Homo sapiens: one gene and its partners. The protein of the gene in region 2 interacts with the protein of the main gene of each other region in a biochemical or structural test. Each region holds a gene or a part of one and is shown on either strand. Other genes may lie near its edges.

Evidence for each region.
Region 1: the proteins of EZH1 (region 2) and APBA2 interact in a test that uses a peptide from one of them, tested with the Homo sapiens proteins (one large-scale study listed by IntAct).
Region 3: the proteins of EZH1 (region 2) and FRMPD3 interact in a test that uses a peptide from one of them, tested with the Homo sapiens proteins (one large-scale study listed by IntAct).
Region 4: the proteins of EZH1 (region 2) and SYNJ2BP interact in a test that uses a peptide from one of them, tested with the Homo sapiens proteins (one large-scale study listed by IntAct).
Region 5: the proteins of EZH1 (region 2) and ARHGEF12 interact in a test that uses a peptide from one of them, tested with the Homo sapiens proteins (one large-scale study listed by IntAct).
Region 6: the proteins of EZH1 (region 2) and RADIL interact in a test that uses a peptide from one of them, tested with the Homo sapiens proteins (one large-scale study listed by IntAct).
Region 7: the proteins of EZH1 (region 2) and IL16 interact in a test that uses a peptide from one of them, tested with the Homo sapiens proteins (one large-scale study listed by IntAct).

What each region holds. Positions count from the first base shown.
Region 1 is NC_000015.10:29,112,974-29,115,894, reverse strand, and holds part of APBA2 (amyloid-beta A4 precursor protein-binding family A member 2), read right to left. Parts: intron 2,020-2,921; coding exon 1,879-2,019; intron 1-1,878. UniProt on the Homo sapiens protein: Putative function in synaptic vesicle exocytosis by binding to STXBP1, an essential component of the synaptic vesicle exocytotic machinery. May modulate processing of the amyloid-beta precursor protein (APP) and hence formation of APP-beta.
Region 2 is NC_000017.11:42,742,241-42,746,498, forward strand, and holds the start of EZH1 (histone-lysine N-methyltransferase EZH1), read right to left. Parts: upstream 2,801-4,258; 5' UTR 2,778-2,800; coding exon of another isoform or gene 2,771-2,777; intron 1-2,770.
Region 3 is NC_000023.11:107,452,652-107,456,151, reverse strand, and holds part of FRMPD3 (FERM and PDZ domain-containing protein 3), read right to left. Parts: intron 1-3,500.
Region 4 is NC_000014.9:70,375,591-70,379,090, forward strand, and holds part of SYNJ2BP (synaptojanin-2-binding protein), read right to left. Parts: intron 182-3,500; coding exon 86-181; intron 1-85. Other genes in the region: SYNJ2BP-COX16 protein, read right to left, coding at 86-181. UniProt on the Homo sapiens protein: Regulates endocytosis of activin type 2 receptor kinases through the Ral/RALBP1-dependent pathway and may be involved in suppression of activin-induced signal transduction.
Region 5 is NC_000011.10:120,479,413-120,482,912, forward strand, and holds part of ARHGEF12 (rho guanine nucleotide exchange factor 12), read left to right. Parts: intron 1-547; coding exon 548-1,018; intron 1,019-1,847; coding exon 1,848-2,164; intron 2,165-3,500. UniProt on the Homo sapiens protein: May play a role in the regulation of RhoA GTPase by guanine nucleotide-binding alpha-12 (GNA12) and alpha-13 (GNA13). Acts as guanine nucleotide exchange factor (GEF) for RhoA GTPase and may act as GTPase-activating protein (GAP) for GNA12 and GNA13.
Region 6 is NC_000007.14:4,877,217-4,880,716, forward strand, and holds part of RADIL (ras-associating and dilute domain-containing protein), read right to left. Parts: intron 988-3,500; 5' UTR 924-987; coding exon 389-923; intron 1-388. UniProt on the Homo sapiens protein: Downstream effector of Rap required for cell adhesion and migration of neural crest precursors during development.
Region 7 is NC_000015.10:81,199,879-81,203,378, reverse strand, and holds part of IL16 (pro-interleukin-16), read right to left. Parts: intron 2,979-3,500; exon of another isoform or gene 2,909-2,978; intron 1-2,908. UniProt on the Homo sapiens protein: Interleukin-16 stimulates a migratory response in CD4+ lymphocytes, monocytes, and eosinophils. Primes CD4+ T-cells for IL-2 and IL-15 responsiveness. Also induces T-lymphocyte expression of interleukin 2 receptor. Ligand for CD4.

The DNA of each region.
Region 1 (2,921 bases), on a different chromosome or scaffold from region 2:
CTCCTCAGGCAAGCAGGTCTCGGGCCCTGGGCTGAGCAGCCCAGAAAGGCACATCGCGCAGCTCTGCTTCTGAGCGTTGCCCTCCCTCCCCCGCCGGGATCTGTGTGGCCGATGTAGGTTTCCGCTGCTCCTGCTCCCGGCAGGGGCTTCCTCCATCAGCCATTCCCCGGCGTTCCTCAACCAGAAACCCACCCCGAGGCCCCTCGCAACTGCAAGCCTTGTTTATCAGCGACTCATGTTCCGCGTGGGCTCAGAGCTGCTGGAAACAGGCACCATAACCTCGGCAGGGCTGAAAGGATTCCAACGCCCCGGCCGCCTCCTGCCTCTTCCCCGTTCTCCCGCCCGCTCCTCCACGGGTGGATTTCCTCACAGGTGTGGGGCTGCTGGCCGTGGGGGCGGCCGCTTCAAAGCATCTACTTGGGAACACTGGCTTTTCCTTTCTTTGAAGCCATCAAAGGGAGGCTGGTGTCCGCCTGGCCCCTCCTCCTCCTGAGCCAGACCCCTGCCCCCACCAGTCCAGGGAAAACAGGCCTCCCAGCTCCCAGCCGACCCTGCAGTGCACAAAATACCAGTGTCCCGATGTGGCTCCTGGAGACCTCATCCGAAGAACAGGAACTAGAGACCCCTCCACCCACCCGCCCACCCACAGGCTGCAAGGATGGTCGCCACGCACTCAGCCTCACAGAGCCACCAGGGGGAGCACCACAGACGGCCCGGCCTGCTGCTGCTGTCCCCAGACCCAAATTCCCTGCCCGGTCCCCAGCGGGCCCCTCTGTAGGCCGGGCTCCTCAGCTCTCAGCCTCCCGCCTCGTGCGGCCACCACGCTTCCCAGAGAGCCTGCAGCCCCTTTGTGCTGAACACCCCTTCACACACCCCTACACACACACAGACACACCCACTCACACTCTCCTCACACCCCATGCCTCACACCCACTCACAGACCCACAGCCACAGCCGTGCACACATACACACTCATGCTTGACACCCCATGCTCACACACACCCACAGCCACACACCCCTGCACACACCCACACTCGCACTCCTACACACCCCATGCTCTCACACACACACGTACATCCGCATACACTCACCCACACACACACACTCCTCCACACGCACACTCAGGTACATTCACACAGCCACACACCCACACCCATCCACTCATGCACCCCTATACACCCACGTGCACGCACACACTCATTTCCCACACCTACCCACACTTACCCACACTCATACATCACATCCCACACACACCCATGCTCTCACACATCCACATGCACACACCCACACTCGCTCACACTACACACACACACACACGCACACCCGCTGCGCACTGGCCAGGCCTCCCCCGGTGTATGTGCCACCTCCCCAGCACCATCCCCCCTCCCAATGATCCTGCCTCCTTGTGAGCTCTGGAGGAAAACCTGCACCTCCCCCACACCATCCTCACACTGCCGTGGAAGCGATGCCAGAAAGAACTGGACTGTGGGGGGTTCAGCCAGTGAAGTGGGACAGGGCAAGCAGCCTGGCTGTGGGAGGGGATGGCCAGCAAGGGCAGAGAGGCAAGCCTGCCAGGGTGGCCAGAGCTGTGTGCCCTGCAGAGCTTCTGAACTGGACATACAGGTCCAGTCCCAAAAGTAGTGTCCAGGGAGCACCCCCAGCAGCCTGTGCCCTCCCGGTTGCTCAGTTAGAGCCAGACCGGGATGGCTCCGCATCACCTGCCGCTCCATTCACCCTTGTCACAGCAGCCCCGATGGGAGACACAGCCTGGCTGACCTTCAGATGCCCTGTGTCCTCTGGAGCGGGGGAGGCTCATGGAGGGCAGGCGGGAGCACGTGGGAACCGGCATGCAGAGGCACACTCAAAGTCCCTCCTTACCTCTCCGACCGAGTTGGACAGAGCTTGGACTATCTTCTCGTGGGCTGTGGCCACCACGCTCTGCCCGTTGATCTCGATGATGCGGTGGCCCACACGGACGCCCCCTCGCTCAGCAATGCCCCCTCTCATGAGGCTGCAGATCTAAGCAGACATGGCCAGGTCAGCACACGTGTTCCCGCCACACCCGACAGGCGCTCCACCACGTCCCCAAAGATGGGACATGCAGAGGGAAAAGCGCCACATGATGAATACGTGCACGTGCAATTCGCTGACTCACAGACAGAGATCCTTATGATATGCAGTATGTTTCTTTAAAACAAGAGAGTTAATGCCATGGTGTGTGGGGAACCACCAAGTTTTCTGACTCCCACGGTGGAACCTGTCCCCCAGCTGCACCTCCCCCAGGGCCGCTCCCTTTGTGGTCAGGCTAGAGACTGGTGACACAGCCCAAGGCCACTGCCACCTGGCCTCCTACGGCACAGCCTGGTTACCATCCTGGAAGACAGGCACTTAGCTGATGGGCGGGCGGGAAAGGAGAGGCAGCCTGTCCCCTGGCCACCAGAAAGGTGGGGCATCTGTTCTGTCAAGGGAAGGCTCTGTTTGCCGGATGCCCAAATGGTCTACATCGACAGGGAAGAGTCACTTTATTCCTACATCCCCCCCCCGCCAAGTGACGTAAGGGCATTTTGTGCCAAATATACTGGTTCTGGTTTTGTTGGAGACAGGGTCTCATTCTGTCACCCAGGCTGGAGTGCAGCGGTGGGGGCTTCCATTCCAGCCTAAAAGTGACGCCAAACAGATGGACAGGAGGGCCTGGGAGCGCCTGTGACCACGAGACTGGACAGAATGGAAAACAGGCGCCGTGCACACCCGTGTTCACAGCAGCAGTGTTCACAACAGCCGAGGGTGACAGCACGGACTAGCGGAGAAACAGAATGTGCTCTAGGCCTGCAGGGAAACAGTACTCAGCCCTGGAGAGGAGGGAGAGTCTGAAGTGTGCTACAACACGGACAGACCTCGGGGACACTATGCTGCATGAAACA
Region 2 (4,258 bases):
CAAGCGATTCTCCCACCTCTGTCTCCCAAGAGCTAGAATTATAGGTGTCCGCCACCACGTCTGGCTAATTTTTTGTATTTTTAGTAGAGATGGGGTTTCACCATATTGGCCAGGCTGGTTTTGAACTCCCCGACCTCAGGTGATCCAACAGCCTCAGCCTCCCAAAGTGCTGGGCTTATAGGTGTAAGCCATCAGCCCAGCCTCTAGTGCTGTTTCAAAGGGCACTAATGTAACCATCATAATGAAGAAGTCATTTACACTTTAAGGAATTTTAAGCTGGGCCTTAGCATCAAGTTCCACGATTAGCATACAAGTACTCTGCCAGTTACTGACAATACTAGCATCCGGATCACCTGACTCCCAGTGCCAGAAATTTCCCCACTATTTATTCCACAAATATATGTTGAGCACCTACTATTATACTTAATAGTAGTATCTACTATGTGTTACCATTTTAGGTGTTTGGGGTACATCAATGAATAAAACATATATCCCTGCCTTTGGAGTTGATTCATTATGTTTGTGACACACAACAATAAGCATAAACCTTGACAATGATAGCATTATTACAGTTTTATAGATAGTCCTTTCTCCTATTATGTATGTGCGTTTTTAAGTACTTCTCTCTCCCTTTTTTTTTTCTTTTTTGAGATGGAGTCTTGCTCTGTCACCCATGCTGCAATGCAGTGGTGCATGTCGGCTCACTGCAACTTCCACCTCCCAGGTTCAAGCGATTCTCGTGCCTCAACCCCCTGAATAGCTGGGATTACAGGCACCCACCACCACGCCCAGCTAATTCTTGTATTTTTGTAGAGAAGGAGTTTCGCCATGTTGCCCAGGCAGCTCTCGGACTCTTGACCTCAAGTGATCCGCCTGCCTTGGCCTCCCAAAGTGCTGGGATTACAGGCCTGAGCCACTGTGCCAGGCCTCCTTTTTTTTTTTTTTTTTTTGACAGAATCTCACTCTGTTGCCCAGGTTGATGTGCAGTGGTGCAATCTCGGCTCACTGCAACCTCCACCTCCCGGTTCAAGCGATTCTAATGCCTCAGCCCTCCCGAGTAGCTGGGACTACAGGCGTGTGCCACCACACCTGATTAATTTTTGTATTTTTAGTAGAGATGGAGTTGTCCCATGTTGCCCAGGCTGGTCTCAAACTCCTGGGCTCGAGTGAACGGTCCACCTCAGCCTCCCAAAGTGTTGGGATTACAGGCATGAGCCACCGTGCCAGGCTTTTTTTTTTTTTCTTGAGACAGGGTCTCAGGTGCTGTCACCCAGACTGGAGTGCAGTGGCAGGATCAGAGCTCATTGCAACCTTGACCTCCCAGTCTCAAGCAATACTCCTGCTTCAGCCTCCCAAGCAGCTGGGACTATAGGAGAAGGCCACCACATCTGGCTATTTTTTTTTTGTAGAGATGAGGTCTCGCTATTGTTGCCTGAGCTGGTCCCAAACTCCTGGGCTCAAGCTATTCTCCTGCCTGGGCCTCCCGAATGCTGGGATTTCAGATATGAGCCACCGAGCCCAGTCTAAAGTACTTATCTCCTAACACACACTCTCTCCTATGTAAGTAATCTCTTTTATCAGTGGCATATCTGGGGATTCCAAGACTTAAAATAGACAAGCTTTCACAGAAACCTCTAATAGGGTTAGCACCTTCTCAGGCTGGAAACCTCCTTCAATATCAGTTTCCTAAATTTAAAAAACATGGGGTGTGGGAATTTTTTTATTCAGCGGCAGTATGGCAGCAAACGTGGAGGAGACTCGCGTTTTCATTGCCATCCTTGCACCCACCTAATTGTTAGTGTACCTGAGCTCCTTTGCTTTCATCCTCCCCTGCCAAGCGTCAGGTTCCTATCGGCCTGGGCTACATCACATACAACCCTGTATTTCACCCTCCATATTCCTTCACATTCCACGGGGGGCACTAACATCCTTCAGGTATCCCTTCCCTTCCCTGCTCAAGAAACAATTCCTCAGTAGTCACTTTTTATTGAAATAAAAGTTTGTCCCACATTTCCTAACAGGCATGTCCCAAATACAACACCTTGTCTGTGCTTCAAGGCACTTTTATTTATATCATTTGATCCTCGGTTGAATGGTGGGGGTGAGCGATCATTGGCGTGAGACCAAAAGTCTGGAGTGAAGGAGATTCTTGCTCAGGGCCAGGCCTGGGGTGAGGCGACCGAGGCACCCAGGACGCACGTGAGGAGGCGCTCACTGCACTTGCGCGACCCTGAGTCAGTGCTCCTTTACACTTTGTGCCTTGGGAGCCTTACTCACCTCACCCTAGTCCCGGCCTTGTTTTTACTGCTACCCCTCCTCAACATCCCCGAAAGCCATCGCAAGATCAGCCCCGGTCTCTAGCCCTCCCCAAGCACAGCTCCAGGTCCCCAGAGTCCACCTCGCTAAAGGCCCCCGCAGGTGCCACCGCCCTCCCGCGCCCTTTGGGCGCTGGGGCTCCCGCCCACCGGCCCACACCGCCATCCAACGGGATTCCCCGTCCCCGAGCCCGCCCCCGCCGCTCCTCCTCCCGGGCACACAGCCCTCGCAGCCCCAGACGCTGTCCTCGCCTGGGTCTCTCTCGCCCCGTCGCCCCCATTCCCCCACCCTCGGAATGAGGAGGGGCGCCTGCTACCCCCGGCCAGGCAGGCAGTGTGTCCCTCGGATTCCTTCCAATTTCCTGATCCCTCCGCCTCTCCCTCCCTCAGGCCCAGGGCGGCGAGGGGAGGAGGCCCGGCCCCACCGCCCGGCCCAGGCTTGTTTACTCACTCACCCTCCATCCCGAGCCGCGGGTCCCGCTGCTAGGACGCATGCGCGCCGCGGCCCCACCCCTGCGCCGTGCCCCGCCCCGCGCCTCCTGTCGGCGCGTGCGCATTGACTTACCCGTGCCGCGCGGACGCACTACTGTCATTTGCCGCCAAAACCCCGCACTCAGGAGTCCTGGCGGGTGCAGCCTCCCAGACGGCTTCCAAAGCGGCGCTGGCAGGGGAGGGGAAGGGCTCTGGGGAAACCTTCGCAGAGCCACTAATATCTTCCTGAAGACCCTATTCAGCGGATTTGCCATCCCCACGCGCTGGTGACAAGCCACATCTCACTTCAGCGTTTGAAGCCAACCCAGATCACCTTCATACCGATGCTTCACCCCTACCAGTTCTCCAGACACCGGTCTATGGGTTCTAAGCCCTTTATTTATGTCTGATCTCCCTATTTCTGTTCATAGTTTTCTAGTCACTTAGAATCAAAATTATAGCCTTGTATCGAAATAAATCCCCACAAGACACCTGCTAGTTACAAAGGGAAAAAAATAGCAACTTTACAGATAAGAATCTGTCAGACACCACCTTAACTAAGTGATCAAAGTTAGCATCACTAGTGATAAGAGGTATTGTTTTCTTCTTCTTTTTTTGCCGGGGGGCGAGGCTGGACGGAGTCTCGCTTTGTTACTTACACAGGCTGGAGTGCCGTGGCGCGATCTCGGCTCACTGCAACCTCTCCCTCCCGGGCTCAAGCAATTCTCCCGCCTCAGCCTCCCAAGTAGCCAGGAATACAGGTTCGTGCCACCACGCCCGGCTAATTTTTGTATTTTTAGTAGAGATGGGGTTTCACCGTATTGGCCAGGCTGCTGTCAAACTCCTGACCTCAAGTGATCTGCCTACCTCGGCCTCCCAAAGTGCTGAGATTACCGGCATGAGCCACCACGCCCGGCCTCCCTCTTCTTTTTAAGGAGACAGGGTCTTGCTGTGTTGCCTAGGCTGGTCTTGAACTCCAGGGTTCAAGCCATCCTCCCACCTTGATTTCCCAAAGTGTTGGGATTACAGGCATGAGCCATTGCCCCCAGCTGAGAGGTATTCTTACCAGGTCCCTCTGAACATGATGCAATGAGAAGCGCACAAAATCACTTCTGTGGTATTCTTGACGAACACGCATAAGCTGATTTTTTGTGCGTGTTGTTTGTTTGTTTGTTTTGAGACAGTTTCACTCTTGTTGCCTAGGCTGGAGTGCAATGGTGCAATCTCGGCTCACTGCAATCTCTGCCTCCTGGGTTCAAGCGATTCTCCTGCCTCAGCCTCCCAAGTAGCTGGGTTTACAGGCATGCACTACTATACCCGGCAAATTTTGTAATTTTAGTAGAGATGGGGTTTCACCATGTTGTCCAGGCTGGTCTCGAACTGCTGACTCAGGTGATCCCCCCACCTCTGCCTCCCAGTGCTGGGATTACAGGCATGAGCCACAATGCCCAGCCTGCATAAGCTGAATTTAA
Region 3 (3,500 bases), on a different chromosome or scaffold from region 2:
TTTGAGGCTACAGTGAGCCATGATCATGCCACTGTACTCATCTGGGCAACGGAGTGAGACCCTGTCTCTAAAAATAATAATAATAATAATAATAGTCATCCACTATACCCACTCTATCTTCCTAGCCTTATCTTCCATTCCTGCCCTATTTCTCTATGACACAGCCACCCTACGTACTTGCTCAAGTTTTTTCCAGTCTGAACTTCATCCCTTCACTTATTCATGAAGTCATTCATTTGAGTAGTCAACAAATATTTATTAAGTATCTCTTCTATGCACTAGGCACTGTAAATTCAAAGATGACTGAGAAGGAGAAGGACAGGAAGCCTCCTTCATCTTTTGTATTATCCACAGCAACTAGCACAGTGCCTTGTACATAATTGGTGCTCAATAAATGTTTTATGAACTAATGTGCAGGGGGAGATGCGATAGAATCCCTGTCTAATATGAATCAACAAGTATTTGGTCCAATTCAACATATGCCTATTGAGTACCTACTGTGTATTAGGCACATATGCTATGGGGATTTAAAAAAATTAAAAAAAAAGATGTACTTGCCAAATGTATTTTTATTTATTTATTTATTTAGAGACAGGGTCTCACTCTGTCACCCAGGCTGGAGTGCACTGGTGCGACCACAGCTCACTGCAGTCTCGACCTCCCGTGTTCAAGCCATCCTCCCGCCTCAGCCTCTCTGTAGTCCCGAGTAGCTGAGATAACAGGTATGCACCACCATACCCAGCTAATGTTTTAGTTTTTTGTAGAAATAGGGTCTCGCTATGTTGCAAGGGCTGGTTTCAAACTCCTGGGCTCAAGCTGTCCTCCCACCTCAGCCTCCCAAAGTGTTAGGATTACAGGCCTGAGCCACCACACCCAGCCCCAAATGTATTTTAGAGACGGAGGAGTTGAGAGGAGAGAGAGATCACTTTAGTCTAAAATGATCAGAGAAGATTTCACAGAGGAGGTGAATTTGAATGTAGAGCTGAAGGATAGGTATAGTGATATGGAATAGGAGAGAAGCATAGGCAGAAAGGAAAGGGCATTCCTGGTGAGTGAAATGGAATGAACAAAAACATAGAGGCAAAAAAAATGTACAAGGTACGTTTAGGAGATCCTGGGGTAAGAAACTTGGCTGGAGTAGAAGGGTCCATGTAGGGCTTTGTTTCACAAGTAGATCAAGTGTATCAAAATCACTTGGGGAGCTTGTTAAAATGCATATTCCTGGACTCCAGCTTCCAGACCTACTGAATCAGAAGCTCAGGAGGTAGGACTCAGGAATCTGCATTATAACAAGTTCCCTCAAGCAATTTTAAGACACATTAAAATTTGAGAATCAATGATGTGGACCAAGCATGAGAAATAGGGTTGGAAGAATATACAGGGTTAGGTCCACACAAGGAGAACTTTGAATGCCAGGCTAAGGAGGCTGAAATTTATCCCACAGGCAATCAGGTATCACCCTCCAAGGATGATGATCAGAAGCATTATGAATAAAGGATATTCCACAACATTAATCTAGCAGTTGTGTGTATTATGGACTGGAAAGGAAAGAGACTAGTGCAGTGTGGCTGTGAGGTGGTGGCAGGAGTCAGGGTGGACTGGGGCATAGGGGATGAGTCAGAGATGGCTTTGAGGTTTCTAGACTGGGAGACAAGAAGCCTTATGGTAAAAGAAAGGTGAGAAGAGTGAGTCATCTCTGAGAAATAATGAGATGAGTTTGTGAATACTGAGTCTGAGAGCAAGCTATCCAAGAGGAAATGTTTAGCAAGCAGTTGGAAATATAGGACTGAACCTCAGGAGTGGGGTTAAGTTTGGGCTAGAGAAATGGGAATGGTTGGTAAAGAGGTGAGAAGGGAAGCCATGCATGCCTGTGTGTCCTTGTCAATAAAGAAAGTGGAAAGCAGGAGGAGCTGGAGAACACCCAGATTTGAGGGGTAGTAAGAAGAACTAGCAATAAAAGAGAAAAAAGGAGGGGTCACTTGGCTGGAAGGAGACCCAGATATTAGAACCTAGCAGAGAGTTCTTTCAAAAGCTGCGGGTGGCTAGTAGTGTGGCTAATGGCAAAGTGAATTTGAGGCACAGAGCAAAAACACTGGCTACGGCATGCATGCTGAGAAAGCTGCAAGAGTGCACACACCTGCTCATTCTCATGTTCCTTAACACAAACACACAGAAATAGACACACCTGCTCCTACAGATACACAAGTAGCACCTCTTTCCCTCTCTCTCCTTTCCCCGCCCCACGTTATACACATATTCCCATTTCCAGGCTCATTTTCTGACTACCAGGGATTGGGCACTAGTGTGCCACAGGCTGTTAATGTTCTGTTTTAAGGATGGTGCCTCAGGTCTCAGAAAAGGGTGCTCTGCCTGTCATGGGTGGGAAATAATACAGAACCCCAAGATCACTGTCCTTGCCTTTGGCAGCTCAGCTGAGGGGAGGAAAGGAGGGAAAATGGCATGTTTCTCTGGATTTGCTCCCTACCCTACCCCTTTGCCCCTAGCCCCAGGATTTCTCAGCAGACAATAAGGTCCACCCCATTTTGAGAGTCCTTCATTTTGGCTGCCGATAATGCAAGAGAATGTTTTTGTTTCTGAACTTATGGTAAAAAGGAAAATAGAAGTCCTTGAGAGAAGAGCCAGAACAGAATTTTCTGCTGGGAATGCTAATGGCCTTAAGGCTGCCCCACAAACAGAAGCTGACTTGAGTGTGCTTCCTCCCAGGGGGCCTGTCAAAGCTAAGGGTCTTCATCTAGTATCAATAGGTATCAATTCTAGTCCCCCTAGCAATGATTGCTAGGGCCTATATGTGAAGGCAAGAACCCCCCAAAACCAAGCTTGTCTGCATGAGCCTCTCTTTCCACAATTTGCCCCAGGTATGTGTTGGGGTTTGAGGGTGTGTCTGAGGGGTGTGTGTCTTGTGTGTGATATGTGTGTGTGTATTTGTGTGTATGTGTATGTATGTGTGTCTTATGGCTTCATTCAGTTAGCCTGGAGGTGCCACAAAAACAGGGATCTTTCCTCTGTTGCATTGGTGCTGCCCCTCCAAGTGCCTTATCAGGCATTAGCCACGGAGTCCAATCATTTATGCGTAGTGGGGGAGGGTGGGTACAGAGTGCTTCCGTTGTCCTGCATCCACCCATGCTCCCTCCAAGGGCTGAAGTAAGGATTACTGCGGTGGGGCAATTCCTCTCCTCTACTCATCCCACCCGAGACTCCTCTGTTACCCACCCCCACCCCCATCTCCAGCAAGCCTTTCCCAGCTTGCTGCTATCATCAGCAATCCCAGGGCTTTCTTGTTGCACTTTTTCAATCTACTACTGCTCCTAGAGGATGTCGTTGGTCACAAAATCCCCCAACTGGGCCACACAGCTCACTTCTCAAGACCCTCGGACTGCACCACTTACAAGAGGGAGGGGTCCCCTGACTCATTCCAAATGCAGCTCGCAGCCTCATAGGAGTCCCCAGACCTCTCCTCCAGTGGGGTAGAGGCTCTGTTG
Region 4 (3,500 bases), on a different chromosome or scaffold from region 2:
ACACTGAAGATTACACACATTGGGCTTATTCAGAAGTACAGTGCAAAAGCCTGGTGCCAGGTTTCTGGCTCAAAGTGATACCTACCCTGTGCTGCACTCTCAGAGACACAGCATAGCCTGCATTACGAAAGAGGTCTACAGCATCCTGGTGCAGCAGGTTCTTTAGGTCTTGGCCATTTACCTGTCAAAACACCAAAGAGTAGTAAGAAAGGAAGAAGGCTATTAGAAGTCAACAATTTATTTTCAAATGGCCAAACTTTAAATAACAAACTCCTTCAGAGCAAATTGCAAGGACTAGGAGTATGGGCAAAGTTACTTAGAGCTCAGAACTTAGAACTTTTTTCATTTTCAAAACTATGTTTTCCTAGAACTGAAGTTCCACAGGCCATCTGAAGAGAACCTATGTAAAATAAAAAGTGGTCTCTCCTTCCTCTTAGCTTCTATGCCTGTCTCGTTTTGACACTTGGGAATCTGTTACCGTATTAGCATTTCTTCCATGAGTGTTAACCTGCTTCCTTAAAGATAGCATGGTCTTCCAGGTTACCACCCTAACCTTTATATTCCTAAGCCCTGGCATTGCCAGCTGCAACTGTAGAAATATAACTCTATGAAACTCTCCACCAATTTATTTTGATGTCATATAAATCTATACTAGCCCATTCTATTGGGCTTTTCATAGTGAACAACTTCCTGTGATTCCACGGATACTCCTATCCATTATATCCAAATTAGTAAATTAGTCATTTTTTAATCAAAACTTAGTAAAAACCATATTCCTGTGATGATATAAATCCTTAAAAAAATTTCAGTGTAGGTCACTCCTACCACTTAGAGGTGAGAGATGTGAAGGAATACTTGTATTAATACTTTTTGCAGTTAGGAGTGACATCGGCCACAAGTAATAATCTATCTATCCTATGCTGTATTCAGTGACACAGCACAGCCCACTTAGTGCAAGATTACATATCTTTTATACTTGTCAATGTCATCGTTAACAGTAGCAGCAATAAGAACATCTGATATATTTCTTTTGATAGGTTCTGTACTTTACATACATTATCTCTTTTAATTCTCATGATAACCCTATGAGGTAGACATTATTTTTATCTCGTTTCCACAGATAAAGAAACTTGAAGCTCAGTGAGATTTGTGCTGGAGCTAGGGCTAGGATTTGTAAATAATGAAAGAAAGATCAAAGTGTCCTTGCATTTCACTGTTCCTTCTGCACTGTTATTCTTCCATCTTGACTCACCAACTATCCTCTGCTCAGCTAATGCTCAAGTCACTCCCTTACTCAACTCTCTCATTTTCCTTGTCGCAATCTTCCTTCTCCAAGGCACTCATAATCTTCCCTCTACTCTCTCTCTTGCCAATACAGTTGGTGAATGAATCTACCAACACTTCTGCCCTATAGACAGTCTACCTTTGTAAACCAATAGTTTCCAACTCCATTCCACTTCAGTCACCAATTGACGTAAACTTAGACTTCAATATTAGACATGCTTCAGCTCCAATATCTCAAACTCTTAAAAACCTGACAACAATTTCCACTCTTTTCATACTTTCTATTCATCTACTGAATTTCCTCCTTGTAACCTTTTTAGACTTTACTTGCATCCTTGCCCATCTAGGAGTTCCTGTTGTAATTTCAACAAAGCACTTGGTAAATCATTAGAATCCTTTGTCCCCAAGATCTTCTGCCATCTTTCCAGTCCTGGGCCATATTCTGCAATCCTTTTCTTGCCATCATTAAGTTGAATATTCTGGGAGAAAGGTATATTCTCATTCTCCACCATAGACCCATACTAGCTGACTCCAGCTCATCCTTAAAACCGCTTCTACTCATTTGCTGAACTCCTTAATAAACACGCAGTGATAGCTGTTCCAGACCTTTTTCCACCACCGTCTCCAACCCCATTTCTACCTCTCTCCCTAGCTGATTCCTTTATCTTTTGTGAGAACACTGAGGACTTCTGATAAATGCTTTCTACATTTTCTTTCCTTCTCCCTCAAAGTTTCTTTATATCTTCTCACTACTCCTTTCCCCTAGTCTCTGAATTAGATCTATTTCCTTTTCAAGGTGAAACCATCCACTGATGATCTTGATCATACTTCTTCTAACCTCCTTACAAAACTCACAGACACTCTGTCTTCTTGATTACTTAACTATTATCTTTCTCTGCTCCTTCTCTCAACTAAAATTATACACCTCTATAAAGAAAACAATACAACTATTTCTTGGAACGCATTATCACTCTCCTCCCATCTTCTTTCCTCTTTCTTTGACTGCTAAATTTGTTCTAAGAACTGTTTGCATGCACTACCTCTATTTCTTCAGCATTCATTCTCTATTCCCCTGTAATCTCACAATGTATGAGGTAGAAGGGAAGAACATGTTTTTCTAAAGGTCACCAATAACTTCCAATCACCAAATCCTATAGCCGTTTTTGTCTTCAGACCACCTCCTCCCTTTTGTAATTTTCTCCTATCTTGGCATATGAACACTTAGCATTCTTTGTTCTTAAATTATTCCTTTCCGGATTTCCTCTTCCCTTTCTTTCTCCTTAAGGTGAGTCAAGGTTTTTCAGTATCAATCCTCTATCTTCTTTCTTTCTCTCCCACTGTGAGCTTTAACAGTTTCAACCATAATCTGTAAGATAACTCCCAAATTTGTATCCCTACTTGTACTTCTGGATTTGCCAGTTTCTTGCTGGATGCCTACACCTGTATACTCTGCTAGACCCTAATTCAACATATCCAAAACCTCTTTATTACTTCCCACAAAAATCAGAATACATACCTTGCTTCTTATTGCCACTATCATTCCTTCAAACTTTTTTTTTTTTTTTTTTTTTTGAGACAGAGTCTTGCTCTGTCCCTCAGGCTGTCACAGTGGTGTGATCATGGCTGACTGGAGACTTGAACTCCTGGGATCAAGTGATTCTCCTGCCTCAGCCTCCGAAAGTGCTGGGATTATAGGTGTGAGACATTGTGCCCCAGCCCAGGCTAAAATTTTAATAATAGTTTTAAACTCTCTCTGCTGTCAACTTTCATATACAATAGATTGCCAAACTCCACAGTCTAACACTATGACATCTCTCATACAGTATTTTCTTTCCTATTGCCTATTTTAGGCTGTTGACACTAAAAACAAAACAAAAACTTGGGACCCCAATCCACCATGTCAAGAGAAAAAATTAAGCTGCAAGCTGAGTCATGCAATAAACTGCTTTTCCTTTTGTTCCCAAGCAGATAGCTACAGATAACAGGTTAAATATCTCCACAGGTAATTACTCTATGTTCACCTTATCTTATGTAAAGTCCCAACTTACTAAGCAAAAGAAAATACGTAATTGACTATTCCCTTGCCTGCTCCTTTCCTCTGGCAACATGTGGATTACCATACCTTCCCTCTTTGCTCTTCAGCCTACTTTAAATATTAAAGCCCTCAAAATCATCTTTGGAGAAAGGAACATACCTGTCTCCCAGGCATGTCCTTA
Region 5 (3,500 bases), on a different chromosome or scaffold from region 2:
ATCATTGTCTGGGTGACCTCATAGCATACACTTGGCCCATTCAAAATTAAATTGGTTCTTATTTTCAGTAAATGTATGTATCTCATAAAATTAGAGGAAATAATATGCATATAGTGTCTGGATCTGGAAAAAGCAGAACTTTTTTTTAGCTTTTTCTGTCTAGCTTAACACAGCCTTTCAACATTCTTAAGAAGTACCTTTAGGGTATTATTCTAGTTATATAGAAGAAAAAATAGAGGCATGATATTGGTTATTGAGGAGTTCTAAATAGTAGTATCTCCCTATTCAGAATGCTTAGATCTTTTCAAGTTTAGTTTAACGTTAAATCTTCTCTAAAAGATGGTGCTTTATTTCATCTTCAAAACAAAATGGAAAATGATTGTATGAAGTAAGATGATTGTATGAAATTAATAATTAACATTTTAATATGTCATTAAAAGATACTTTTTAAAGATAGATCATTGGTAAGTCAGCTAATTTAATTCTTGCAGCCTGAGGTTATAGTTGTGAATATGTTTTTTTTCCCCCTCCTTCCTAAATCGTTTAGTGGGTTTGTTGAAGCAGTTGCTGGTGCAACAGCTAGGTTTGACTGAGAAGAGCGTTCAGGAAGACTGGCAACATTTCCCAAGATACAGAACAGCCTCTCAGGGGCCGCAGACAGACAGTGTCATCCAGAACTCTGAAAATATTAAGGCCTATCATTCTGGTGAAGGACATATGCCCTTTAGAACTGGAACTGGTGACATTGCAACTTGTTACAGTCCACGGACTTCAACTGAATCTTTTGCTCCACGGGATTCAGTGGGACTGGCACCCCAGGATAGCCAGGCAAGTAACATTTTAGTAATGGACCACATGATTATGACCCCAGAGATGCCTACCATGGAGCCAGAAGGGGGTCTTGATGACAGTGGAGAGCACTTTTTTGATGCCCGTGAAGCACATAGTGATGAGAATCCATCAGAAGGTGATGGAGCAGTTAACAAGGAAGAGAAGGATGTTAATTTACGCATCTCAGGCAAGTATCTTTCACACTTAAACTTTGATTTTGATTTTGATCATTGTTAACTGTCCTGTATTTTGAAATGGATGTTGTATTGGTATCCAGGTGTGTGTGTGTGTGTGTGTTCACACATGTGCAATATTTATTCCTTCATTTGATAAATACTGAATCTACTCTGTACCAGACCTCATCATAGGTGCTGGGAGATATAGCAGTGAATAAAACACAGAAAAATCCCATCTTCTCATGAAGCTAGGGGAAAGAAGGATGGTAAATAAGTAAACAAATAAATAGACTTCAGGAAGTATTAGGAAGAAACATAAGTCAGACTGAGGGGACGGAGAGTAATGAAGGCAAACAGGGTGATCAGGGATTAGGACCTCCGATGAGGTAGCATTTGAGCAGAGACCTCAATGAAATGAGGGAATAAAGCCGGGTGGGTACCTGGGAGCTTACTATTCCAGCAGAGAGCAGAGTGGGGCAGAGGCTTTGTGTCAAAGAGCAAGCTTTTTGTGGTGATCGAACACTGGATGAGGGAGACAATGGCAGGAGATGGGGCAAGAGAGGCGTTTGGCAGGGGAAGTGGTAGCAAGATCATTTAGGCACTGTAGTTTCCAGCTTTAAACTTTTGAAATGAAATTTTTTGGAAATTACCATGAAAGTTTGCAGAGTTTAGCTTTCATCTGAAGTGAGGAAATTCTGATGTACCTGAAACTAAACTCAGGAATTAATGGCTTTTCCCTCTCTTAATAACTTTTCAAGTTGAAGTTGTCAGCACACTATGCTATTTCTGTTTTCTAATGGCAGCACTGGTCTTATCAAACTATTCTGTCTCTATCCATAGGAAACTATTTGATCCTTGATGGCTATGACCCAGTGCAGGAGAGTTCCACAGATGAGGAGGTTGCTTCCTCACTTACCCTGCAGCCCATGACAGGCATCCCTGCTGTGGAATCCACCCACCAGCAGCAACATTCTCCTCAGAATACTCACTCCGATGGGGCAATTTCACCATTCACCCCCGAATTTCTGGTCCAGCAGCGCTGGGGAGCTATGGAGTATTCCTGTTTTGAGATCCAGAGTCCCTCCTCTTGTGCAGATTCACAGAGCCAGATCATGGAGTACATTCATAAGATAGAGGCTGACCTTGAACACTTAAAGGTACCTCATACTTCCACATCCATAGGACTTGGTTGTAAGAAACATTTAGCAGAGGGGAAGAATAGGGTGATGAAAATGCTGATGTCAATAAACTTGTTCAGGTTCTAGATTTCTTTGACTATTATCCATGAATAGGCCTGGGTAAAAAGTTGAGATTGGCATTGTTTATCTTTTTCTTTCTTTCTTTTTTTTTTTTTTTTTGAGACGGAGTCTCGCTCTGTCAACCAGGCTAGAGTGCAGTGGCGTGATCTCAGCTCACTGCAAGCTCTGCCTTCCAGGTTCACACCATTCTCCTGCCTCAGCCTCCCAAGCAGCTGGGACTACAGGCACCCGCCCCCACGCCCAGCTAATTTTTTGTATTTTTAATAGAGACGGGGTTTCACCATGTTAGCCAGGATGGTCTCGATCTCCTGACCTCGTGATCCGCCTGCCTCGGCCTCCCAAAGTACTGGGATTACAGGCGTGAGCCACCGCGCCCAGTCGGCATTGTTTATCTTTTGACTATCACAAGAGCAGAAAAAGTTGCAGCTCTGTGAACTGTGTGTTTGTATGGGTGTCTAAGTTTAAGAACCTGAAATGCTTCGGGTAGTTGGCTGGCCTCTGTCAGACATGAACAAGAAGATGAGATAGGTAGGGTTTATGTAGTTATGAATCTAGGCTGAGAAATGCTATGACTTTCTGTAGCCTATTATCTGTGACTCATTAGGTGACATTGGCAGCTTCCCAAATCCTATGACAGATAGAAATTGGCTTCAGTGGCTCCTGTAATCTAAAAACATGGTCATGCATGGGATTTTTGTAGATTGGTAATTGAAGATGTCACTATTGCAAAACTGACTTGTGTGGCAATTTCCAAGAGAAAGACCTATCTTAAAGTTTTCCATCAGAGGCAGGGCACGGTGGCTCACGCCTGTAATTCCAGCACTTTGGGAGGCAAGGCAGGCGGATCACGAGGTCAGGAGATCGAGACCATCCTTGCTAACACGGTGAAACCCCGTCTCTACTAAAAATAAAAAAAATCAGCCAGGTGTGGTGGTGGGCGCCTGTAGTCCCAGCTACTCAGGAGGCTGAGGCAGGAGAATGGCATGAACCTGGGAGGCGGAGCTTGCAGGGAGCTGAGATCACGCCACTGCACTCCAACCTGGGTGACAGAGCGAGACTCTGTCTCAAAAAAAAAAAAAAAAGTTTGCCATCAGAAAACACAGCTTCCAGAGCCCAAACATTTTCCTCATGACATCATTTACACCAGAGACTTGAGGGGTAGATTTAAGTATCCTTAGCCTTTGAGTTAAAGACTGGTCTCCCTTAGTTTCTCTTTTACCTTCATATAATTGAT
Region 6 (3,500 bases), on a different chromosome or scaffold from region 2:
AGGATCGCTTGAGGGCAGGAGGTCAAGACTATCCTGGGTATCACAGCGAGACTCCTGTCTCTACAAAAAGTAAAAAATTAGCTGGGTGTGGTGGTGCACCTATAGTCCTAGCTACTCAGGAGGCTGAGGTGGGAGGATCGCTTGAGCCCAGGAGGCTGCAGTGAGCTGTGGTTGCACCACTGCACTCCAGCCTGGGTGACAGAGCAAGACCCTGTCTCAGAGAACAAAAGAGGAAGGCTTCAAACATCCAGGACACGGGCTCCGACTGCCTCCTGCAGAGCGAGCCCGCCCCACGCATGTCCCCTGCACCACTCCTTCTCCGCCTACCTCGGCTGGCCTTCTCAGCGCTCAGACCCACGGCTCTTCCTGAACCTGTGGCCCCCCTCACCTGCCGTGATGGTGTCCACCTCCTTGGCTGCCAGCTCCTCCACGTCCGACCTCTTCCTCAGCTCAAACCTCCGGGATAAACCTTCTCGGGGTTTCCATAATTCCTGGATCAAGAGGGGCTTCTCACTGTCCCCAAACACCCGAAAGCACCGGGCCTGCCACCGCTGCCCAGCATCGCCGGCTTGGCCCACCACGTCACACAGCACGTACTGGCCGGCCTGCCTGGGGTCCAGGGCGTACCGCTCCAGCGCCTCCTTCACCAGCTCACGGGCGCTGGAGGTGCCGGTGGCCAGGACGCTCTTGTAGTGGGTTCCTGTGCAGACACTGTCCCCAAACACCTTCAGGACACCAGGGGCCGACAGCTGGGTGGAGAGCTCGGCGGGGTCATCGCTGGCGCCCAGGCTGGAGAAGGTGGAGTCCAGGTCCCGGTACTTGTAGCTCAGCGTCCGGGACAGCATGCTGGACAACAGCTGGCTCTGCCGCTTCAGTTTGCTCTTGGTGGGCGGGGACATGATGAAGTGCGTCCCATAAAACATGGTGGGTGAGGCTTCATGGATGAGGACTGTGGGCTTCAGCCAAAGGATGTGGGGAGGCCGTGACCTGGGTGAAAAAGTGAGAGAGGTTAGCGCCAACCATCGTGACCACCAAGAGCAAATGAGGCCACAGGCGGTGACTCCTGCCCGTCATCCCAGCGCTTTAGAAGGCCAAGGTGGGAGGACGGCTTGAGCCCGGGAGTTCCAGACCAGCCTGGGAAACATAGTAAGGCCCCGGCTCTACAAAAAATTTAAAAATTAGCCAGGCATGGTGGTGTGCACTGTACCCACTGCTCTGAAGGCTGAGGCTGGAGGATGGCTTGAGCCCAGGAGTTCAAGATTGCAGTGAGCTATGATAGTGCCACGGCCCTCCAGCCCGGGCAGCAGAGCAAGACCCCATCTCAAAATCTAATGGACATAACAGGCCGTGGGCATCCTGGCCCCGCAGACCTGACACCAGAGCACCTGAGCAGAGGATGTGGCTGGAGCCTGCAGGGCCACCAGAGACCGAGAGGACTAAACGGGCTGGAGCGCCCTTCAAGGAAAGCCATTACTGGGAAACACAATGAGGTCGCCTAAGTAAGACACGCTCCGCTGCAGGGCTTGGATTTCTGGAAAGTGCTGGGCGCAGCGCCCGTGTGCAGTGAGCATCAAGGAGCGCCCCACCCGGAGCCGGCCCCAGCACCATCACAGCCACAGAAGAGCAGCGGGCAGCCCAAGGGCAAAGCTTCGCCTCTCCGTAAACCTCGTGTCTCCTACCCCACAGGCTGCGACGTGGGAAATGGGTCACAAACACAGTGCAACCAGGAAAACAGGCGAATCGCAGCCACGTTGGCAGAATAGACCATCAGACATTCCAGACACAAACCCCCAGAATCTACCCCTCAGGGCAAGAGACCCGTCCTGGCTTGAAGGAGATACTCCCTGGGATGGCAGCACTGAGTGGCCTCGCAAGCACGGCGGGCACAAAGGGCCCCTCTCGAGCCGGTGCAGGCATGGCCGGAATGCAGGCGTCCCGCCCACCACAGGCCGCGGGTGCCCGGCGCTCCAGGCCACAGAGATGCAGTCTCCTGGGGAAACGGGAAAACAGCCTGGGACGCGTTGGCGTGTCATACAATCACACTTCTAATGTCCGTAGCGTGCCCAGGGCCAGGAGTTCCAGATGGTTTCTCAGTCTCCCTCCAGAACCTCTGTGGGGGCAGGAGGGCAGAGAAAAAGGAAGGCAGGTCTCCGATTTGGAAAAGGTGAGGCTGGACTGCAAGGCAGGAAAATACTGGAAAACTGCGCACACATCTCCCCATTACTGTACCCCACTTCCGTGCTCATGTTCTCACCAAAGACAAAGGTGGCAGACGAGTGAGCCAGGAGGAAAGCCTATTTTCTGGAAAGCTCTGGAAAGAGTGGTCCAGGTCCCAGTGAACACAGCACGGGTCGCCTGCCACTGCGACCGGGGTCAGTACTAAACACCGCAGCAGCCAACTGTCACTGTCCAGGCTTGACTCACTCGTCACGCTGCGGGCGCTGCAAAAGGCTTCTGGAAAGGACGGTGGCTGCCTAGGGCCACAGAAAGCAACCAGGGAACCCCTCCAAAGAAAAGGAGCCACACTGTCCCTTAGGAAACTAAACAGTGGAACCGCCCCAGCCTCCAAAGCTGACACTGCGAACTGGCCTCTTTCTAATATCACCGGGGCGTGGGTCATCTTCTCTGGAGCCTCTCACTGCCCGCCAGAGCTGTCATGGGTGAGTCCTGAAATCAGACCACCACTCGCTTCCTCCAGAACCAGCCCAGGTCAGCCAGCAGCTGTGCTTTCTCCGAGGACCTTGAACTCTTCAGAAATACTTCCGACAGCTTCGCACACCAGAGACTGGGTTCCCAACGCGGACGTCTGCCCTGCGGGGTGGGTGGCTGGCCCTTCTCCTGTTCCTATAGCCCACTGCGGACACTTCACCACGGCAAAGGCTTTCGCTGTGCCTGGCTTTCTGAAGAGGTGAATTTGCTGTAACAGGTCACGGAGTTCCCAGTACAGGTCATAAGCAGATGGAGCCTTGAGGTTCCATCGAGCCAGGCCATAAAGGAGTAAAGGAGCAAAGCCTTTGTTTCTCTTCCTCTGAGGAAGGTGCAACGAGTGGCCTTGTCAAATCCTAAGAAGCTCAGAGCCGGCCGCAGCTTCCCCCACGGACTCATCAAAGGCCTCGGTTTCATTTACAACAAAAGCATTTTCAGACAGTGCTCACATCACAAACGTGCGGCCTGGCCTGTGCACACCACACCAGCGGCTTCCAATCGCCCTCTAGTCTGACCTCAGTCTCCTGTGGTCAGTTTTCAAAGTGAGTACTTGGAATCACAGAACAAAACCCCTCAAAGAGCCTCTCCAGCCGGCACTTATTAACCATCCATGAGAGCTGCACAACCCTGCTCCAAAGCACCTCTCCAGATGCCCCAGGCTTAGAAGCCTCCAGGCAGCACACACTGGCAGAGGGTCGGCCACCACCTTTTCATAGTGCTCATTTCCAACGGGTTCCCCAGGGTGCAAAGGCAAAGTGCAGGTGGTGGATGGTACAGCCTCTGCCACCAGGCAG
Region 7 (3,500 bases), on a different chromosome or scaffold from region 2:
TAAAACACCAAAAGCAATGGCAACAAAAGACAAAATTGACCAATGGGATCTAATTAAACTAAAGAGCTTCTGCACAGCAAAAGAAACTACCATCAGAGTGAACAGGCAACTGACAGAATGGGAGAAAATTTTTGCAACCTACTCATCTGACAAAGGGCTAATATCCAGAATCTACAATGAACTCAAACAAATTTACAAGAAAAAAACAACCCCATCAAAAAGTGGGTGAAGGATATGAACAGACACTTCTCAAAAGAAGACATTTACGCAGCCAACAGACACATGAAAAAGTGCTCATCATCACTGGCCATCAGAGAAATGCAAATCAAAACCACAATGAGATATCATCTCACACCAGTTAGAATGGTGATCATTAAAAAGTCAGGAAACAACAGGTGCTGGAGAGGATGTGGAGAAATAGGAACACTTTTACACTGTTGGTGGGACTGTAAACTAGTTCAACCATTGTGGAAGTCAGTGTGGCGATTCCTCAGGGATCTAGAACTAGGAATACCATTTGACCCAGCCATCCCATTACTGGGTATATACCCAAAAGATTATAAATCATGCTGCTATAAAGACACATGCACACGTATGTTTATTGGGGCACTATTCACAATAGCAAAGACTTGGAACCAACCTAAATGTCCAACAATGATAGACTGGATTAAGAAAATGTGGCACATATACACCATGGAATACTATGCAGCCATAAAAAATGATGAGTTCATGTCCTTTGTAGGGACATGGATGAAACTGGAAACCATCATTCTCAGCAAACTATTGCAAGGACAAAAAACCAAACACTGCATGTTCTCACTCATAGGTGGAATTGAACAATGAGAACACATGGACACAGGAAGGGGAACATCACACACTGGGGACTGTTGTGGGTGTAGGGAGGGGGGAGGGATAGCATTAGGAGATATGCCTTCCAAATTTTCTATAGTCCTTGATGATGCTAAATTTTCATCACTCTTCAAACCCTATTTTTGGATAACACTTCTTTAAAATGAAACCACAAACCAATACAGACCCCCAAAGCTGTCTGTGCTCTGAGAACAGGTTCTTCCACTACCAAAGCACTCATCTGATGCTACTCCAGTGGCTTGTGTCACCACTGGTCATGTCTACTGAACTCTAAGCTCCCTGAGGGCAGAGTCTGTCTGTCATATTTCGAGTTGATCCATGAGGCCTAGCTTGGCGAATGGCCTCTATCAATTGCTCAGTAAATATTTGTTGAATGACTAAGGATGATTGCATTTAATGTTTAAAGGTGTTCTCTGGCCAGATAAAATGTATAAAGTAGGAAAAGACATTTTACATACTGTACAACACCTTTGCTTGGGCTAATTCTTCTGGGGAACTAATAGTTCACTTAGTAACCCCATCTCTGGTTCAAATCTGATGAATTGCCTATGCTTACTTGCCTTATATTGTAAGTGATCATCAAGATACATGGAATACTGTTGAGATATGGAGAAGAATGAGGTTAAGTCTTTTTGTGCTACATAGAATTGGAAAACAAAACATGCTGCAGCACAGTGTGTGCGCGTGTGTGTGTCTGATGCTAGAATAAATCAGAGAGAATACTCAACAAGCTGTTATTGAAGAGCAGAGAATGGGTAAAAACTGATTACTCTACATTTTACTAATTACAGCATTTTTACCAAACACAAAATTTAATATTAAAGATTAAAATACAAAGTGGCAATATAATAAATTGCTAATAAATTTGTATACACCACTTAACTACAACCTAAAAAGAAAAAGAGGGAAAAACAAAAACCACAAACTTAAAACAAAGAAACCCAAAATATGATCTGCCTACTGGAAGAAATAGAAGTAGGAAAGTGGCTCAAAAAGTTGTTCGTGGATGAACAACTAAGATCTCCTTCCTGGAGAACTAAGGGCAGGGCCATTAAATTAGACATTTCGTGATCTCTAAATAGAACTGAGAGGAGATTCAAAGAAATGCAAAATAACAGCTATAGAGCATTATGGAGTCTTTGGCCTGAAAGAATTTTTCAGATTTTGATGGTCCAACTGCTGTCATTTACTTCTGTGTGTGTGTGTGTGGATGGGGGTGTGTGCGTGCATGTGTGTGGGTGTATGTGTGATTGCTTTGGCTTGAGTTTTGGTAAGAAATTACATATCATGTCTTTTAAGATTATTTTTAGATATATTTCTCTTTTTCACCACACATACACACACACACACACAGAGACACACACACACTTTTTATTTTCTGCTTCTGACAACTAGCTCAATGCAGGGGATGCATTGTCCTGCCACTGCTTCAGTAAATGTGACAGGTATCCTGTGTTCTCAGCAACTGCTGCAGGATTCTCTGGCATCTGCACTTTGGCTGGAGTTGGCTACAACCATCCTTGGAGGATGAGGAGAAGGAAGGAAGAGAGGGAAAGCGCATAAGACTGGGCCACCTGTCCACCTTCTCCAACCCTCACCATTGCTCGAGGCTCTCTTAATCCATTTATGAGGAGGTAAGTACAGAAAAAAAGACAGATGAGCTTATGGCTGACTCAGGCCTGAAATCCTTGCCTTGGATAATGGGAAGAAGGCCATCTTTTTGAAAGAGAAGATCAGGAATATTTCAGTTACAATACTCTCCTGACACATTTTCACCATTCCAAACTCCACCCAGTGTTCTACAGGACTATTTATGAAACTTTTAAAATCTTGACCTAGGCTAGGCATGGTGGCTCACGACTTTAATTCCAGCACTTTGGGAGGTTGAGGCGAGCAGATCACTCGAGCTCAAGAGTTTGAGACCAGCCTGGCCAACATGGCAAAACCCCATCTCTAATAAAAATACAAAAAATTATCCAGGTGTGGTGGCGTGTGCCTGTAGTCCCAGCTACTCGGGAGGCTGAAGGGGGAGAATCACCTGAGCTCACGGAGTCAAGGCTGCAGTGAGCCGGGATTGCACTGCTGAACTCCAGCCTGGGCAACAGAGTGAGACCCTGTTTCAAAAAATAAATAGATAAATAAATAAAAATAATTTTTAAAGAATTTTAAAAATTAAAAAAATCTTGACTTACCATAATAATTTACATTTTACATCATAGTACATGGATCACATACACATAAGATTTATATGTATACATAAATAAATAAATATATATAACTAAAAACTTTCATGAAACAATACCTTTACTACGGTATAATAAAAATAATATAAAATATCTTTGGTATGAAAAAGATAATATAAAATATGATTTTGCTAAGAACCTGATGCAATCTGATGTATGCTATTCTTTTTTTGTTTTAGAAAAAGGAAGTTGGTTCCAACCCGCTAAGTTGATTTTCAATCCACTAGTGGGTCATGCTTGAAAACCACTACTTTCAGGTTTTCTCTGATTTTTTACAGCAATTCCATATGGGGTATTTGCTTTGATTCCTCATTTAGCTCCCTTCTTTGGGCCACTGAATCTTGTCATATGTGCATTGATTTTGCCGCATTTGCTCAGCCCTACTCA